2 separate regions of the Homo sapiens genome follow, and region 2 is linked to region 1. Evidence: fine-mapped QTL for protein levels in blood plasma. Region 1 holds a variant in brackets. A gene starts in the other region. All regions are shown on their reverse strands. Region 1 overlaps UBR7 (ubiquitin protein ligase E3 component n-recognin 7). Region 2 holds the start of FUCA1 (alpha-L-fucosidase 1).

What was found. PIP is the chance, under the fine-mapping model, that this variant and not a neighbour inherited with it causes the effect. Protein levels are from antibody-based Olink assays in UK Biobank. Linkage for the fine-mapping came from a reference panel and not from the study's own genotypes, which makes the PIPs less certain.
Region 2: it holds the start of FUCA1, and the variant in region 1 is fine-mapped to the plasma level of the FUCA1 protein (UK Biobank, PIP 0.91).

Annotation. Positions count from the first base shown.
Region 1 is chr14:93,214,795-93,223,325 of GRCh38, reverse strand. UBR7 (ubiquitin protein ligase E3 component n-recognin 7) reads right to left here. Exons shown (of 11, transcript NM_175748.4): 5 at 8,344-8,397; 6 at 8,045-8,150; 7 at 4,591-4,799; 8 at 3,965-4,114; 9 at 2,915-3,077; 10 at 952-1,013. Among named protein-coding and RNA genes, the nearest start is that of UBR7, 12 kb to the right of the region's middle. The variant A/C (reference allele first, on the strand shown) is at 4,184.
Region 2 is chr1:23,863,700-23,872,251 of GRCh38, reverse strand. It overlaps FUCA1 (alpha-L-fucosidase 1), which reads left to right and starts at 3,962. Exons shown (of 8, transcript NM_000147.5): 1 at 3,962-4,354; 2 at 6,627-6,761. The coding sequence starts at 3,966. CNR2 (cannabinoid receptor 2) reads left to right here. Exons shown (of 2, transcript NM_001841.3): 2 at 1-1,737. RefSeq lists a silencer at 4,331-4,550 and an enhancer at 5,801-7,000.

The DNA of each region.
Region 1 (8,531 bases):
CCTGTGGGGTTCAAGCGTTTCTCCTGCCTCAGCCTCGGAGTAGCTGGGATTACAGGCACCCGCCCTCATACCCAGCTAATTTGTGTATTTTTGTAGAGACAAGGTTTCACCATGTTGGCCAGGCTGGTCTTGAACTCCTGACCTCAGGTGATCCACCCACCTCAGCCTCCTAAAGTGCTGGGATTAAGGCGTGAGCCACTGCACCCGGCCACCATGCCCAGTTTCTATTCTAAACCATGGAACTTAGAATTCCAGAAACTGGGTCTGGTGTTAATTTTTCCTGTCCAGTCATTTTCCCCTCCCCGTCCCAAAGATCCATGCTTCAAGGTCAGGACCAGCAGAATCAGTACTGCGGATTCCTTCCAATGACCTTCTGCTAAGCTACAAGTACTCTCTCAGAGGCTGTGGGACTGCGCCCTCCCATCATTCTTCCCGGCTTAGCTGGGGTTGGTAAGGACTGCCAATGTAACTCTGATGTTTCACTACCTCTTATTCATTCCCCTTAGCCTGCCAATTTGCTCAAAACAGTCCCTGAATTCAACTCTCAAGTACCCACTTAAGTCGCAGTCATTTTTTTTTTTTTGAAATAGGGTCTTGCTCTGTCGCCCAGGCTGGGGTGCAGTGGCGTGTTCTCGGCTCACTACAACCTCCGCCTCCTGGGTTCAAGTGAGTCTCCTGCCTCAGCCTCCCTAGTAGCTGGGACTACAGGCGCCCATCACCACGCCTGGCTAATTTTCGTATTTTTAGTAGAGATGGGGTTTCACCATATTGGCTAGGCTGGTCTTGAACTCCTGACCTTGTGATCCACCCACATTGGCCTCCCAAAGTACTGGGATTACAGGTGTGAGCCACCGCACCCCGCCAGTCGCAGTCATTTTTAATCGTCAAAGGAAATAAACCCTTCATTCAAAACTTACAGGGCTATGATTAGAATTCTTTAACTCAACATACCGTGCCTTCATCAGCAAATCTCTTGAGATAGTCTTTAAGTTCAGTCTTCAAATCATTGTATTCTAAATCAAAACCACAAAAGTATTTAAGTTTAGATAAACCATTTGCTTTCAAAAACAAAATATTCTTTGCCATTGACACCTGAGTCTGTTAATAATGTAGTCTAAATAAAAATTTTCTTAAGTGAAAGCTGCATAGAAACTCGTTCCCAAATTATCTGTACGTCTACCATGTTGATATGAGACCCTTTTTCATTAAAAAAAAAAAAAGCAAAATTTTTTAAAAAGCATAAAAAGCAGAGATATCCTAATCCCATAAAGATTAAGAATTTTTAAAAGGGCTTCCTATTTCTCTGGAATTCTGGTAGCTGAAATAACCTTGGACTTGTTGAATATTTAATTTAATTTAATTTATTTTATTTTTTGAGATGGAGTCTCACTCTGTCACCCAGGCTGGAATGCAGTGGCACGATCTCGGCTCACTGCAACCTCCGCCTCCCGAGTAGCTGGGACTACAGGCACGCGCCACCATGCCTGGCTACTTTTTTATATTTTTAGTAGAGACAGGGTTTCACCACGTCAGCCAGGCTGGTCTTGAACTCCTGACCTCAGGTGATCCACCTGCCTTGGCCTCCCAAAGTGCTGGGATTACAGGCGTGAGCCATGGCGCCCAGCCCAAGCAAACTGACTCACTTAACAGTTTATATTATGTACAAGGTACCTTGAGGGCTACAAGTATCTTTTAGGTGCATCCTCTATCCTTGAAAAGTTTTTACTCTAATAAAGGCAAAAAGAAATTAATAATTATAAATAAAAGACACGGCCAGGTGCAGTGGCTTGCACCTGTAATCCCAGCACTTTGGGAGGCTGAGGCAGGTGGATCACCTCAGCTCGGGAGTTCGAGACCAGCCTGGGTGACATGGTGAAACCCTGACTCTACTAAAAATACAAAAATTAGTGGGGACTGGGCATGGTGGCTCATGCCTGTAATCCCAGTACTTTGGGAGGCCAAGGCAGGTAGATCACCTGAGGTCAGAAGTTCGAAACCAGCTTGGCCAACATGGTAAAACCTTGTCTCTACTAAAAATACAAAGTAAATTAGCCAAGCATGGTGGCAGGTGCCTGTAATCCCAGCTACTTGGGAGGCTGAGGCAGGAGAATCACTTGAACCTGGGAGGCAGAGGTTGCAGTGAGCCGAGATCGCGCCACTGCACTCCAGCCTGGGTGACAGAGTGAGACTCCATCTCAAAAAAAAAAAAAAAATTGGGGGGGCGCAGTGGCATGCGTCTGTGGTCACAGCTACTTGAGAGACTGAGGCAGGAGAATCACTTGAGCCTGGGCAGCAGAGGTTGCAGTGAGCTGAGAATGCACCATTGCACTCCAGCCTGGGCAACAGAGCAAGACCCTGTCTCAAAATAAATAAATAAATAATAAAAGACAGAAATGACTGATGCTATAAAAGTCACATAAAAGTGGTGGCATCCAAGTGGAAATGGCTGGGATAGAAACCACTGAAATAAGTTTGGCCTGCTGCAGCTGGGTGGTGGTGGGGGGATGTAAAAGCCTTCAATCAAGGGTTTGGGGGTATTTTCTCCTCTAGTGGTTTCCTGTGAACCACTGAAGCAACCTCAAGAACTGTCAAAATGGTGACATGCCTTGCTCAAGAACATGACACATAATGTCCAAAAATTGTTTCAATGGATGGAAAATTTGCATTCATCCATCTACCCTTAATCAGAATAGCATATGTTGTGGTTTCTCAAGCATGTAATTATTCTAGCATGTAACTCTGATTCAATGGTAAAAGCAGCTGAATACCCACCAATATGAAAATCAAGCAATGGTCTAAAATTCAAAATTTTAATTCTTTGTATTAAATTAAAAATATAGGTGTTTACTGCCCCCTTTATATTTTTTTACATAGTGAAGGAAATGATGAATTTTCACACACACACAGTATTTACCACAAATGAGTTCCACTTGCTGGACTCTATTCATGCTGCTAAGGGTATCCATTAGGGGATCGCTCCTGTCAGTGGCCTGGGCAATCTTCCCTTTGTTTTCATAAGCCAGAACTGTGTCGTATTCATCTGTCAGGAATAAGACATCTAGATCTCCATACATTTTCTTTAGGGAAAAAAAAAAAAAAAAAAGAAAGAGGAGTTTCCCCATTAGAACTGTTTATCATTCTCAGAAAGCCAATTTCCTGAGAATCACTAAAAATGTAATTTTTTTATATTAAGACCTAGAAAAACTGGAGCGTCTTTAACACAGAATTGCTAGAAGGATTTATTCTTTTTGCCTAAATTTCTTTCAGAAATCTCCCAATTTCCCAGATGTCATATGGTCTATGAGATCTTTATTTAAAAACCATTGATTTACTGTTAACTTTTTTTTTTTTTGAGATGGAGTTTCACTCGTTGCCCAGGCTGGAGTGCAATGGCATGATCTCGACTCATTGCAACCTCCGCCTTCTGGGTTCAAGCGATTCTCCTGCCTTGGCCTCCCAAGGAGCTGGGATTACAGGCATGTGCCACCACACCCAGCTAATTTTGTATTTTTAGTACAGACAGGATTTCACCATGTTGGTCAGGCTGGTCTCGAACTCCTGACCTCAGGTGATCGAGACCTAACTTGGCCTCCCAGAGTGCTGGGATTACAGGCGTGAGCCAAAGCACCTGGCCAATTTACTATAACTTTCAACCAGTGTTTCCAAGCAACTTTGATATAACAAAGATAAGTAAACTAAAATTAAAATAAGTAAATTTAAAATACTGCATAATTATCCATTTCTTCCACAAACATTCCAACTGTAAGTACTATGTCATAAATTTGCTTAATGTAAAAATTTGGAGGGTCTCCTAAACATTAATTTCATAAATATATTGTTCAGGTGTTCTTTTTATTTTCCTTTCTTCCTCTGGTACAAAAATTGAATGTTTTCCCCAGGTGTTCTTATTTTGGGGCACCAGTACACAAAACATGCTAACACTGAGCACAATCAGATACTTTACCATACAGTCTTGGCAGGTACACAACTTGCTACGCCAGTTCAGGGGCCAATAGGTGGCAGTGTCTTTCTTTATAAGCTGCTTAGCTTTAAGCTCCTGAAGTTTGCAGCCAGATTTTGATTCTGCGTTGAGGCTTTCATTCTTAAACACTGTCTGAAATAAAATTAAGTTTTGAAGCATGTTTTTTAAACTACCATAGTTTTCATAGTTTAGATTTTGTAA[A/C]GAGATTTCTTTAGGCAAAGGATAAAATTGAAATCCAAAGCCATAAGTTTACAGAATTAATTCCACTTCAGTTTTCTTTTTTTTTTTTGAGACGGAATCTCATTCTGTTGCCCAGGCTAGAGTGCAGTGGCATGATCTCGGATCACTGTAACCTCCGCCTCCTGGGTTCAAGCAATTCTCCTGCCTCAGCCTCCTGAGTAGCTGGGATTACAGGCATGTGCCACCATGCCTGGCTAGTTTTTGTAATTTTAGTAGAGATGAGGTTTACCCATGTTGCCAAGGCTGGTCTCAAACCCGTGACCTCAGGTGATCCGCCACCTCAGCCTCCCAAAGTGCTGGGATTATGGGCATGAGCCACCGCGCCTGGCCCAGTCTTATTTCTTGATGGCTCGTACTTCACACATTACCTGGAGATCAGATTCAGAACTAGAGCCGGCACATGGTTCACTGTTCTGCTCTACTTTAACCTCCCGGACATCATCCTTTCCCTGTTCTGGAACATCCTCTTTGAGGGTACTATCTTGATGCTCTCCATTTTCAGGTTTGATAACTTCCTGATCACCTATTCCATCAATGTTCCGCACCAATCCATCATCCTCAGTGGATATTTTGGTTACTGTGAGTTCAAAGAAAAAGAAAAACACATACACACATATCCACTGACCTAACGGACAATAAAATCCCAACAGACAATAAAATCACTTATTCTATTATTATTATTTTTTTTTTTTACAGACAGAGTCTCACTCTGTCGTCCACACTGGAGTGCAGTGGCATGGTCTTGACTCACTGCAACCTCTGTCTCCCAGGTTCAAGCAATTCTCATGCCTCAGCCACCCGAGTAGCTGGGACTACAGGTGCGTGCCACCATGACTGGCTAATTTTTTGTATTTTTAGTAGAGACGGGGTTTCGCCATGTTGGCCAGGCTGGTCTTGAACTCCTGATGTCAAGTGATCTGCCTGCCTCAGCCTCCCAAAGTGCTGGGATTACAGGTGTGAGCCACCACATCAGGCATACAATAGCTTTTGCTATTTTTTTTTTTTTTTTGAGATAGAGTTTCGCTCTTGTTGCCCAGGCTGGAGTGCAATGGCGTGATCTTGGCTCATTGCAACCCCCACCTCCTGGGTTCAGGCAATTCTCCTGCCTCAGCCCCCTGAGTAGCTGGGATTACAGGCATGCACCAGCATGCCTGGCTATTTTTTATTTTTAGTAGAGATGGGGTTTCTCCATGTTGGTCAGGCTGGTCTGGAACTCCTGACCTCAGGTGATCCACCTGCCTCGGCCTCCCAAAGTGCTGGGATTACAGGCATGAGCCACCACATCTGACCTAAAATCACTTTTTCTGATATTAAAATATTTCAGAATCTGGAAAAAGAGATTAGTCCACCGTAGTCTCCGAAATACTGAGAAAGAAAATTCCAACGCTTCTTTAGGTTATGTCTGCCTAACCCAAAGAATTCAAATAATTAAACAGTTTATTTGAAAATATCAATCACTGCTTAAGCACTTTACACATAAAGGAGAAAATATTGTACTGTACTTGTTAGAGACAGAATAATACAAGAAGCAGGAGGAAGAGATTGAATTGTAAACACAGACAGAAGGGTAATTTTTTAAAAACAGCTTTTCTTTATGGGAGGAAGAAATAAAAAAAATGATGGGTGTAGTGGCAGATATACTCTGAGACAGAGAAGAGAAACGATAGGGGAGCTCACATTGGATGCCAGCATTTCAATGTAATAGGAGATGAAGCCATCTGCTGATGGGAGAGGAAATGAAGGGAGAGGCAGGAGATCAATTTAAAAAACCCAATTAAGCTGGGTATGGTAGCTCACACCTGTAATCACAGCACTCTGGGAGGCCAAGGTGGGTGGATCACCTGAGGTCAGGAGTTCGAGACCAGCCTGGCCAACATGGTGAAACCCCTTCTCTACTAAAAATAGAAGAATTAGCTAGGCATGCTGGTGCATGCCTGTAATCCCAGCTACTTGGGAGGCTGAGGCAGGAGAATTGCCTGAACCCAGGAGGCATAGGTTACAGTGAGCAGAGATTGTGCCACTGCACTCCAGCCTGGGCAACAGAGCAAGATTCCGTCTTGAAAAAACAAAAAAACCCAATGAATGAGAACTACACATAGATAGGTTCAGCATCTGTGGACAGTGAGAGAGATCACTGGAAAGGGTGTGAACAGAAAGGGAGCAGCACTTAAGAACTCTGAGGCAAACTGGCCGGGCGTGGTGGCTCATGCCTGTAATCCCAGCACTTTGGGAGACCGAGGCGGGTGGATCACTTGACATCAGGAGTTTGAGACCAGCCTGGCCAACATGGTAAAAGCCTTGTCTCTACTAAAAATACAAAAATTTGCCAGGTGTGGTGGCATGTGCCTGTAGTCCCAGCTACTCTGGAAGCCGCGTCACAAGAATCGCTTGAACCCAGGAGGCAAGGTTGAGGTGAGCCGAGATAGCACCACTGTACTCCAGCCTGGATAACACAGTGAGACTCTGTCTCAAAAAAAAAAAAAAGGCAGAAAAACAAAAGAACTCTAAGGCAAATCTAAACTGTAGGATGAGATCAGAGGTATGGCTATGCTGCTCATGGTTTGTATGGTGAACTGGTCTCTAAAGATGAGAAAGGCAAGAAATTATGAAGCCTAAGCAGCAGATACCATGAGTAACTGCCACCTTAAAAATAAAGAAATACATAAAGCATTACCAATAAGATAGTTAATGCCTCAGGACCATTCATTAATTAGTTGTTTTGATTTAATTTCTTAGTGTATAATAAAAGCACCAGATAGACTGGGCATGGTGGCTCATGCCTGTAATCCCAGCAGTCTGGGAAGCCAAGATGAGTGGATCACTTGAGCTCAGGAGTTCAAGACCAGCCTGGGCAACATGGTGAAACACTGTCTCTACAGAAAATACAAAATTAGCAGGGCATGGTAGTGTGTGCCTGTAGTCCACTTTTATAAAGGCACTAATCCCATTCACGAGGGCTCTGACTTATAAAAGAGGCCCAAGCGAGCTTGTTTGCCCCTTTTAACAGGTACGGACACGTAGAAGGATCTGTCTATGAGGAATGGGCCCTCAACCAAACACTGACTCTGCGGGCACCTGAATTTTGGACTTCCCAGTCTCCAGAACTGTGAGAAATATCTGTCTATTGTTTATAAATTACCCAGCCTAAGGTATTTTGTTTTAGCACCCCAGACAGACTAAGACACCACCTCCTCCCCAACTGATACCATGTGTTAGAATTAACAACTTATTTCAGTTCTATTTATCTTTCAAAATCCCATTCAAAAACTGCCTCCTCCATTCTCTAACTCTGGTCTCATCAATACTCTGCATCATATCATTTAAGTATAAATTTGTTTTTGGTAGTATCCCAACAAATCTATGCACCTTGTGGAGAAAGAACACATACTATTCTTTTTTTTTTTTTTTTTTTTTGAGGATGGAGTCTTGTTCTATTGCCCAGGCTGGACTGCAGTGACGTGATCTCGGCTCACTGCAACCTCTGCCTCCTGGGTTCAAGTGATTCTCCTGCCTCAGCCTCTGGAGTAGCTGGGATTACAGGCAAGCGCCGTGACGCCAGGCTAATTTTCATATTTTTAGTAGAGATGGGGTTTCGCCATGTTGGCCAGGCTGGTCTCGAACTCCTGACCTCAGGTGATCCATCTGTCTTGTTGGCCTCCCAAAGTGCTGGGATTACAGGCGTGAGCCACCATGCCTGGCCAGAACATATACTATTTTATAACCACAGAGCCCAGTTAAAAATAGTTGCTAAAAATTCTGAATTGAACATACAAATTTCACAAGCACAAGTTTGTGGCACACCAACTTCACAAAGATACCTACCTGCCAATTGTGCAGCATAAGCCCACAAAAAAGAACAACGTTTCATGCAGGCCTGGCATACCATCTCCTGAAAATCCCCACTCTCAGGGGGAATGGCACCAAGATGCTGTGAATATAGAACACCAAAAATTTTCTTGTGATTGCCAAATTGTCCAAAATGCCCATTATTTTATAAATACTGTAATAATACACTGATCATATCATTAGAATTTATTTTTAGAAGACTAATTATAATGTAAAATATAACCTTTATCTTTTTGTGACAACAATGGTTTCAAAAGGTGGAACATTTTCCTTACCCTTCCATGGAACCAGTCTTCACAGACTACGCACTGGATCATCTCATCTGGAATCTAACAGAGAAAAGCAGTTTGTTAAGGATTACATTGAATTCGGGAACATGGAAATAACCTGGCACACAGTAAAATAAGATACTAAATATTTGTTCTACATGAACTGGTGTTCCAAAGGCTTACATTGAGATAAG
Region 2 (8,552 bases), not on the chromosome of region 1:
TTCTGGCAGTCCCTGTCATTCCTTGGCTTGTGGAAACATCACTCCTACCTCTGACTCTGTCTTCATATGGCATTTCCTCTGTGTCTCTTGGTGTCTTTTTTTTTTTTTTTTTTTTTTTTGAGACGGAATCTCATTCTGTTGTCCAGGCAGGAGTGCAGTGACATGATCTTGGCTCACTGCAACCTCCACCTCTCAGGTTCAAGTGATTCTCCTGCCTCAGCCTCCCAAATAGCTGGGACTACAGGCACCCGCCACCACACTCAGCTAATTTTTGTATTTTTAGTAGAGATGGGGTTTCACCATCTTGCCCAGGCTGGTCTTGAACTCCTGACCTCAAGTGATCCGCCCACCTTGGCCTCCTAAATTGCTGGGATTACAGACGTGAGCCACCATACCCGGCCTGGTGTCTTTTTTAAAGAATATCAGTCACTGGATTTGGGCCCACCCTAATCCTAATAGTATGACTTCATCTTAATTTAACCAATTATATCTGTAGAGACCCTGTTTCCAAATAAGGTCACATTCACAGATTCCAGGTGGACAAGAAGTTTAGGCGGACACTATTCAACTCAGTACAGACCCAGGAACAAAGTCCACCCACTGGGCTGTGTTGAGTGGCAGTCACTAGTTTATCCTCCCTCAACAAGATGAGCTCCAGGTTGACCTCTGCATCCCCAGTGCTCAGTCAGGACCCAGCAGAGCATCTGAAGGGATCTGGTCAATATGTGTGGAACTGAACTGTTTCTGAAAAGCTCTGACGTATGTTTTGGAAAATCAAATCTTGTTTTAATCCAGACACCAATCTTTTTGTAAGGCAAACAAGTAGCATAAATGTTTAAAAGTGAATTTGCATGTTTATATACTGTCATTCCTTAAAGTTGAAGCATGCCTTTCTTTATTCATCGGTGGAATCCTTTCTCATTTTGGCAAAGAAAATGCCCAAGTGCCTGGCACAAACAAGCACTGAGTAAATACTTCTTGAATGAATAAAACTAGATTCTAAAAATCATTTGATCAAACGCAACTCCACACTTTCTACTTCTCTTCTTTTAGAACCACACTGTATTTCTGCTTTTTTTTTTTTTTTTTTTTTTTTTGACATAGAATCTCACTCTGTCACCCAGGTTGGAGTGCAGTGGCATGCAATCTTGGCTCACTGCAACCTCTGCCTCCTGGGTTCAAGCAGTTCTCCTGCCTTAGCCTCCCATGTAGCTGGGATTACAGGTACCCGCCACCATGCCCAGCTAATTTTTGTATTGTTAGTAGAGATGGAATTTCACCATATTGGCCAGGCTGGTCTTGAACTCCTGACTTCAAGTGATCCACCCACCTTAGCCTCCCAAAGTGCTAGGATTACAGGTGTGAGCCACCACTCCCAGCCCCTATGTCTGCTTTAAGTGGAGAAGCAGAGCTTATGAGGGAGGAGAACAAGGGTGCAAAAGGGACCTAGATATCACTGAGAACTGCCCTTGTTGTTTGGTTGAGGAAATGGGCCCAGACAGTGGACAAGACTTGCTCAGGGAGACAAACGAGATGGTGTCCAGTGCAACAAACCTAGGTTTCCTAACTTCCAGTTCTGTCCACTCTACATCAGTGCCTCTCACCTGTCCCTGCAGGTTCACATTTTGGTTATGTGGATAAGGAGAAATAAATTGAAGATCACAATGTCCCATTTTATCTTCCCCAAGACAAGCTCTGTAACATTAAAGACCACTATGCAAACCGATTACTAGAAAATGTGTGTGGATGGGTTCGGTTTTTTTCCTAAGGTGTTCATGCTTACTGTTTTGGGCAATATTTCAACATAATCTGGCAGAAAAAGAAACAGAAGATAAAGAAAATAGCTGTAGGCCGGGTGCAGTGGCTCATGCCTGTAATCCCAGCACTTTGGAAGGCTGAGGCTGGCGGATCACTTGAGGTCAGGAGTTCGAGACCAGCCTGGCCAACACGGCGAAACCCCATCTGTATTAAAAATACAAAAATTAGCCAGGCGTGGTGGCGTACCTGTAAACCCAGCTACTCGGGAGGCTGAGGCAGGAGAATGGCTTGAACCCAGGAGGTGGAGGTTGCAGTGAGCTGAGATTGCAGCACTGCATTCCAGCCTGGGCGACAGAGCAAGACTGCATCTCAAAAGAAAAGAAAAGAAAAAAGAAAAGAAAAGAAAAGAAAACAGCTGTGATTCAGCAATAGTCATTTTCTCTCCTTGTCACTGCCAGAGTGAGGAAGTGCTGGGTTCTGTCAACATAGGCTCTGACTTCTCATGAGGTGCAAGAAAGAAGCAGCATGAACAAAGGCATAGATTTTGCACCTGGAGACACGTATTCTAGTCCCACCTCTGACTCAAACTAGCTGCATGATCTTGGGCAGCCCCCCAGCCCTCTCTGGGCTTCAGTTCCCTCCTCGGTACAATGGGAAGGGTAGGGAAGAGGATGGTGCCTAGGATCTTCAAAGTCCCAACTCTGATGTGCTGCCATTCTCTCACTGGCATGTGGGAACTGAGTGTGCTACGTGGAGTCATGAGACTTCTTCTTCCTTTTCTTTTTCTTTTTTTTTTTTTTTTTTTTTGAGACCGAGTCTCACTCTGTCGCCCAGGCTGGAGTGCAGTGGTGCGATCTCGGCTCACTGTAACCTCCACCTCCCGAGTTCAAGCAATTCTCCTGCCTCAGCCTCCTGAGTAGCTGGGATTACAGGCGCACCCCATGCCCGGCTAATTTTTGTATTTTTAGTAGAGATGGGGTTTCACCATGTTGGCCAGGCTGGTCTCAAACTCCCGACCTCAGGTGATCTGCCCACCTCGGCCTCCCAAAGTGCTGGGATTACAGGCGTGAGCCACCTTGTCTGTTCAGAGACTTCTGACTTCCGTATTTCCCTCGCTAATGGCCTCACCTCCCGTTTGAGTATGTGCAGCATGTGCAAATTGCAGAGGAACTGGGGAACTTCCCTGCCAGGCAATCCTGGGTCCTCTTGGCTCTCCACTTCCTCCTTCCTTCCTTCCTTCCTCCTTCCTTCCTTCCTTCCTTCCTTTCTTTCTTCCTTGGTCTGGCTCTGTCGCCCAGGGGCTGGAGTGCAGTGGCGGTATCTCGGTACAAACTAAGCTATTTGAAATGCCTCGGAATTCCCAAAGAAAGCTCAGTAAATACCAGACAGATGAAACGGTCCTGCCCGCTCTCCCTCTTTCAGTACCCAGTTTTCTCTTTCCTCTCCTTTCATAACGTTTCTTCCCATCATCCCTCTACCTCCTTATTTCTGTCAGGGCTGTTAGATACCCTTCCGGTCTGTTATCTCCTCCTCCAGCCTTGTGCTACAGGACAACTCAAAAGCCCCCTATGGCTCCCAAGTGATCACTAAATAAAACTCGTGATCTCACTTCAGCCTACCCCTGCAGGATTGCTGCGGCAAAATGGACTACTCCCAGAGGCGTGATCACGGTTCGGTTCACTGCAGCCCAGACTTCCCGGGCTCAAGCGATCCCGAACCTCCCACCTCAGCCTCTCGAGTAGCTGGGACTCCAGACGTGCACCACTACGCCAGGCTCATTTTGTTTATTTTTTATAGAGACAGGCTAGTCTCCAACTTGTGGGCTCAGAGCGATCCTCCCGCCTCGACTTCCGAAAGTGTTAGGATTACAGGCGTGAGCCACTGCGTCCGGCTCAATGGACTCCTTCTTAAATGTGAGTTCTCCGCACACACTGGGCCTTGCTCACCTCCACGATTTAACCTCGCAGTTAAGTCCCTTTTCAAGGTTTTTATTCGTCCTTCAGCGAAGCGCTGTCAACGCCTCCCTGCGTCTTTCCCTTCTTGAGCACCAGAGGGCGCTCCTCCGACCCGAGGAGGAAGCGACTCGGGCCAACCTGTCCAGGTTGTCCCACCCCTTTTTCCTTCCGGGCCAATCGTTAGTCAGAGTGGGCGGAGCCGCCCGCGGGCACCTGCGCGTTAAGAGTGGGCCGCGTCGCTGAGGGGTAGCGATGCGGGCTCCGGGGATGAGGTCGCGGCCGGCGGGTCCCGCGCTGTTGCTGCTGCTGCTCTTCCTCGGAGCGGCCGAGTCGGTGCGTCGGGCCCAGCCTCCGCGCCGCTACACCCCAGACTGGCCGAGCCTGGATTCTCGGCCGCTGCCGGCCTGGTTCGACGAAGCCAAGTTCGGGGTGTTCATCCACTGGGGCGTGTTCTCGGTGCCCGCCTGGGGCAGCGAGTGGTTCTGGTGGCACTGGCAGGGCGAGGGGCGGCCGCAGTACCAGCGCTTCATGCGCGACAACTACCCGCCCGGCTTCAGCTACGCCGACTTCGGACCGCAGTTCACTGCGCGCTTCTTCCACCCGGAGGAGTGGGCCGACCTCTTCCAGGCCGCGGGCGCCAAGTGAGTGTGGTCCCGGGGAGCGGCGCCCCTTCCCGGCTCGGGCGGCAAACAGGAGGTGGGGCTGGGCGGCCAGCTGGGGCGCGCAGCTGCCGGTCGCCCCCATGACCCCGGGGCCCGCGTGTGGCCTCCTGCGGCCACAGGAGTGAGCCTGGCACACCTGATGAGGAGGAGGAGGTGCGTTTGACTGGGGACTGATAAATGAAGGTTCAGGGAGATGGCAGGCTGGGAAGCCCTGGGTATCTGCACCTGTGCACCGAGAGGGCTGAGTTAGGCCATACCTGATGTCCCTTTCAGATTGACAGCACTATCAGGACTCCAGGGTTTCAAATCAGTGGTGTGGAGCCTGGTTCTAATTCAACTGTGAACCTGGACATGTCACTTCAGCCTCCCTGCAGCCTCTTCTATGGTTGTAGAAAGGGGTTATATAAGGATACAACCCTTTGAGCCCTAATGTCTCTAAGAGGGAAAGAGAGGGGAGTTCTGGTGTGCAGTGTATTTGGGCAACAGTACAGATAGTCATTCGTTTGCTCCTCTCAATCCCTTTTACGTAGGAAGTGTCCAGGAAGGGTCTGACTCTCTCTGAGAACTGTTGGAACTTGGGGGTGGCTGGTTCAGAGAACAGAGTAGAGAGCGCTGGGGTGGGGATAAGGGGAGACCACGACCCATGAAGTTGTCAAGGCAGGGGCTTGTCCTGAAGGAGTGAGCCTTGAGAGCCCTGTATTGACAGATGTTAAGTCAGGGAGTGGTTACTATCAGCTTCTAGAAAGATTCATTCGGCTGCTGGGAGAGAAGTGGGTTGGAGAAGAGTAAAAATGGAGGCGGGGAGGTTTCCCCAGCCCCTGGCTTAGAGCAGTCTTCCATCCTTACCTTGGTTCCTCAGCCATCTTCCGGGTTTTCGTTTCTCTTGAACTTTGAATTCACTTGTACTAAAGAGAAGTTACAACTGGCATTTAGTGTTTGCCATTAAATGTATGGGAGTATAAGACTTGATTAAGCAGAGGAAGTGTTTGTCTCCTAGGGGCCTTAGGGATCCATAACTTACAAGTGAGAAAAATTAAAATCTGGGAGATAACCTCTTTCCATGCCTTTTATTTCATGGATGAGATGACTGGCCCAAAGAGAGGAAGGAATATAATGTCCTAGACTCCAGGTCTCATGACGTCAAGGTTGTTTCCACTGCACCAGGGTCTGCAAACTGGCCAGAGGGATTGGTCCTCTGCCAGTTTTTTAAGGCCCATGAGGTGAGAATGGTTTTTACATTTTTAAAGGGTTGTAAAATGTTTTAAAGAAGAATACACTACAGAGAGGAATGTGCTCCCACAGAGCCTAAAATACTATCTGGCCCTTCAAATCCTGGAGTTCCCTACTCTGGCCAATGATTGAACCATAAAGTGCATTACCTATTTTTGTGCCATAAAAGCAAATTAAATATTGAGTGATTTGGTTGTTATTTCAACACTTGCCTTTTCTCCCAGTTATTGGGTCTTTTGTCACCTCTATAATAAATGAGAGGCAATTTATGTAGGCTTGGTAAACCAAACAGCTTAGTTTTCTAGAAAGTTTTCTATTTTGTTGTTATTGTTGTTTTGAAACAGTTTTGCTCTGTAGCCCAGGCTGGAGTACAGTTGCATGATCTCGGCTCACTGCAACCTCTGTCTCCCAGGCTCAAGTGATTCTTATGCCCCAGCCTCTCAAATACCTGGGACTACAGGCACACACCACCATGCCCGGCTAATTTTTGTATTTTTAGTTGAGATGGGTTTTCGCCTCATTGGCCAGGTTGGTCTTGAACCCCTGACCTCAGGTAATCCGCCCACCTTGGCCTCCCAAAGTGCTGGGATTACAGGTGTGAGCCACCATGCCTGGCCAGCAAATGGCTTAGTTTTCTATTATCTGCCATTTCCAGTAGAGCTCTTTCTCCTTCAGGGCAAAGAATGAAAGAAAGTTAATCGTTCCTACCAGAAGTGTTGAAGAATCAGAGAGCTAAGGTGCACTTCTTTTCCCTTACCCACTCCTTCCTTCCCTCTGGGCCTCCTCCTTTGCTGGGGACTGAGGGTTGGGACTTCCTCAAATCTGCTTCCATTCTTGGAGCAATGCCCAAGGGGAATTGTGACTGCAGCAGCTTCCTGGATATCACTAATATAGTCACTGGTACAAGTACATTTGTTGTGGTCAAGTTCTTTCAGCTATTTAAAAAGCCTCAGGCATGCTGGGCAAGTTCATGCAAGTTCACTGCCCACTTCCTTTGCTCATGTGGTTTTGCTGTCCACAGGTATGTAGTTTTGACGACAAAGCATCACGAAGGCTTCACAAACTGGCCGAGTCCTGTGTCTTGGAACTGGAACTCCAAAGACGTGGGGCCTCATCGGGATTTGGTTGGTGAATTGGGAACAGCTCTCCGGAAGAGGTGAGTGTCCAGGGATGGTTACTCTGTTATCTCTTTGGATCTGGCTGTCAAGAGTTCTGTACCTCCTCTACTTGCGTGTGTTTTCTAGGTTTGCATATAGCAAGTAGCCTGAAGGGCTTTTGGCCTTCTACTCCTGTGTGTTTTCTAGGTTTGCATATAGCAAGTAGCCGGAAGGGCTTCTGGCCTTTGAATTGGCAGTGTTTGATGCTTCACAGTTTTCACGTGACCAAAGGGGACACCGTTACAGAAGTTCATGGCCATGTCTGGTTAGATGAAGGATACCCAACATAGACTACGATGCTACTTGATGTCCTGTTTGAGGAGTAGGCTGAGTGTCTGTATAAATCATAAAGTTTGATTGGAACACAGCCATGCCTATTCATTTATGCACTGTCTGTGACTGCTTTCAAGCTACAATTTGAGAGCTGAGATAGAGACCAAATGGCCTGCAAAACCTAAAACACTGTCTGGATCTTTAAGAGTTCACTGGTCGGGTGCGTTGACTCACACTTGTAATCCCAGGACTTTGGGAGGCAGAGGCAAGCAGATCATGAGGTCAGGAGTTCAAGACCAACCTGACCAATATGGTGAAACCCTGTCTCTACTAAAAATACCAAAATTAGCCGGGCGTGGTGGCGTTTGCCTGTAGTCCCAGCAACTCGGGAGGCTGAGGTAGGAGAATCACTTGAACCCAGGAGGCGGAGGTTGCAGTGAGCCAAGATCGCACCACTGCACTCCAGCGTGGGTGGCAGAGCGAGACTCCGTCTCAAAAAAAAAAAAAAAAGAAAAAAGACAAAAAGAGTTTGCTGACTCCTGTCACCTGCTCAGTTTGTTTCTCAGCACTGTGCTTTGCTTAAAGTCCTGCTGTAAAACTCTGAGATATTGATTAGATATGGACTTCAGGAGTCATGATTTTTACCATCTTTATTTAGTCCCTGGGTCATATGATGAAATACTTCAGTTGTTTTTTATCTGTGTAATTGCTTCTTGCATTATAAGGTTTTTGTAACACTCACCATTCTTAACCCAAAGCAAGCTTTATTAAATATGAAAATAGGTCATCAACCACATTTCATTTTGTGTACGTTAAGAACTATTAGTTTGGCCAGGCGTGGTGACTTACGCCTGTAATCCCAGCACTTTGGGAGGCCGAGGCGGGTGGATCATGAGGTCAGGAGATCAAGACCATCCTGGCTAACACAGTGAAACCCCGTCTCTAGTAAAAATAAAAAATAAATTAGCTGGGTGTGGTGGTGGGCACCTGTAGTCTCAGCTACTTGGGAGGCTGAGGTAGGAGAATGGCGTGAACCCGGGAGGTAGAGCTTGCAGTGAGCCGAGATTGCGCCACTGCACTCCAGCCTGGGCGACAGAGCGAGACTCCATCTCAAAAAAAAAAAAAAAAAGGAAAAAAAGAGAAAGAACTATTAGTAAATCTTAGATAAATAAAACGATAAACCTATATTCATTTCAACTGTGTGGAAAATGTTACTAATGATTATTTCTGAGTAAGAGTACTTTGCATATTTGATTTTCTATTTTCCAGTTTCTTTAAATATGAAATTTTATGATTGACAGGGAAGACATTTTTTAAAAATAAGGCTATATGGTTTTTTGTTTTGTTTTGTTTTGTTTTTGTTTTGAGACAGGGTCTCACTCTGTCGCCTTTGCTAGACTCCAGTGGCACAATCTTAGCTCACTGCAATCTCTACCTCCTGGGCTCAAGCCATCCTCCCACTTTAGCCTCCCAAGTAGCTGGGACTACAGGCTCGCACCACCACACTCAGCTAATTT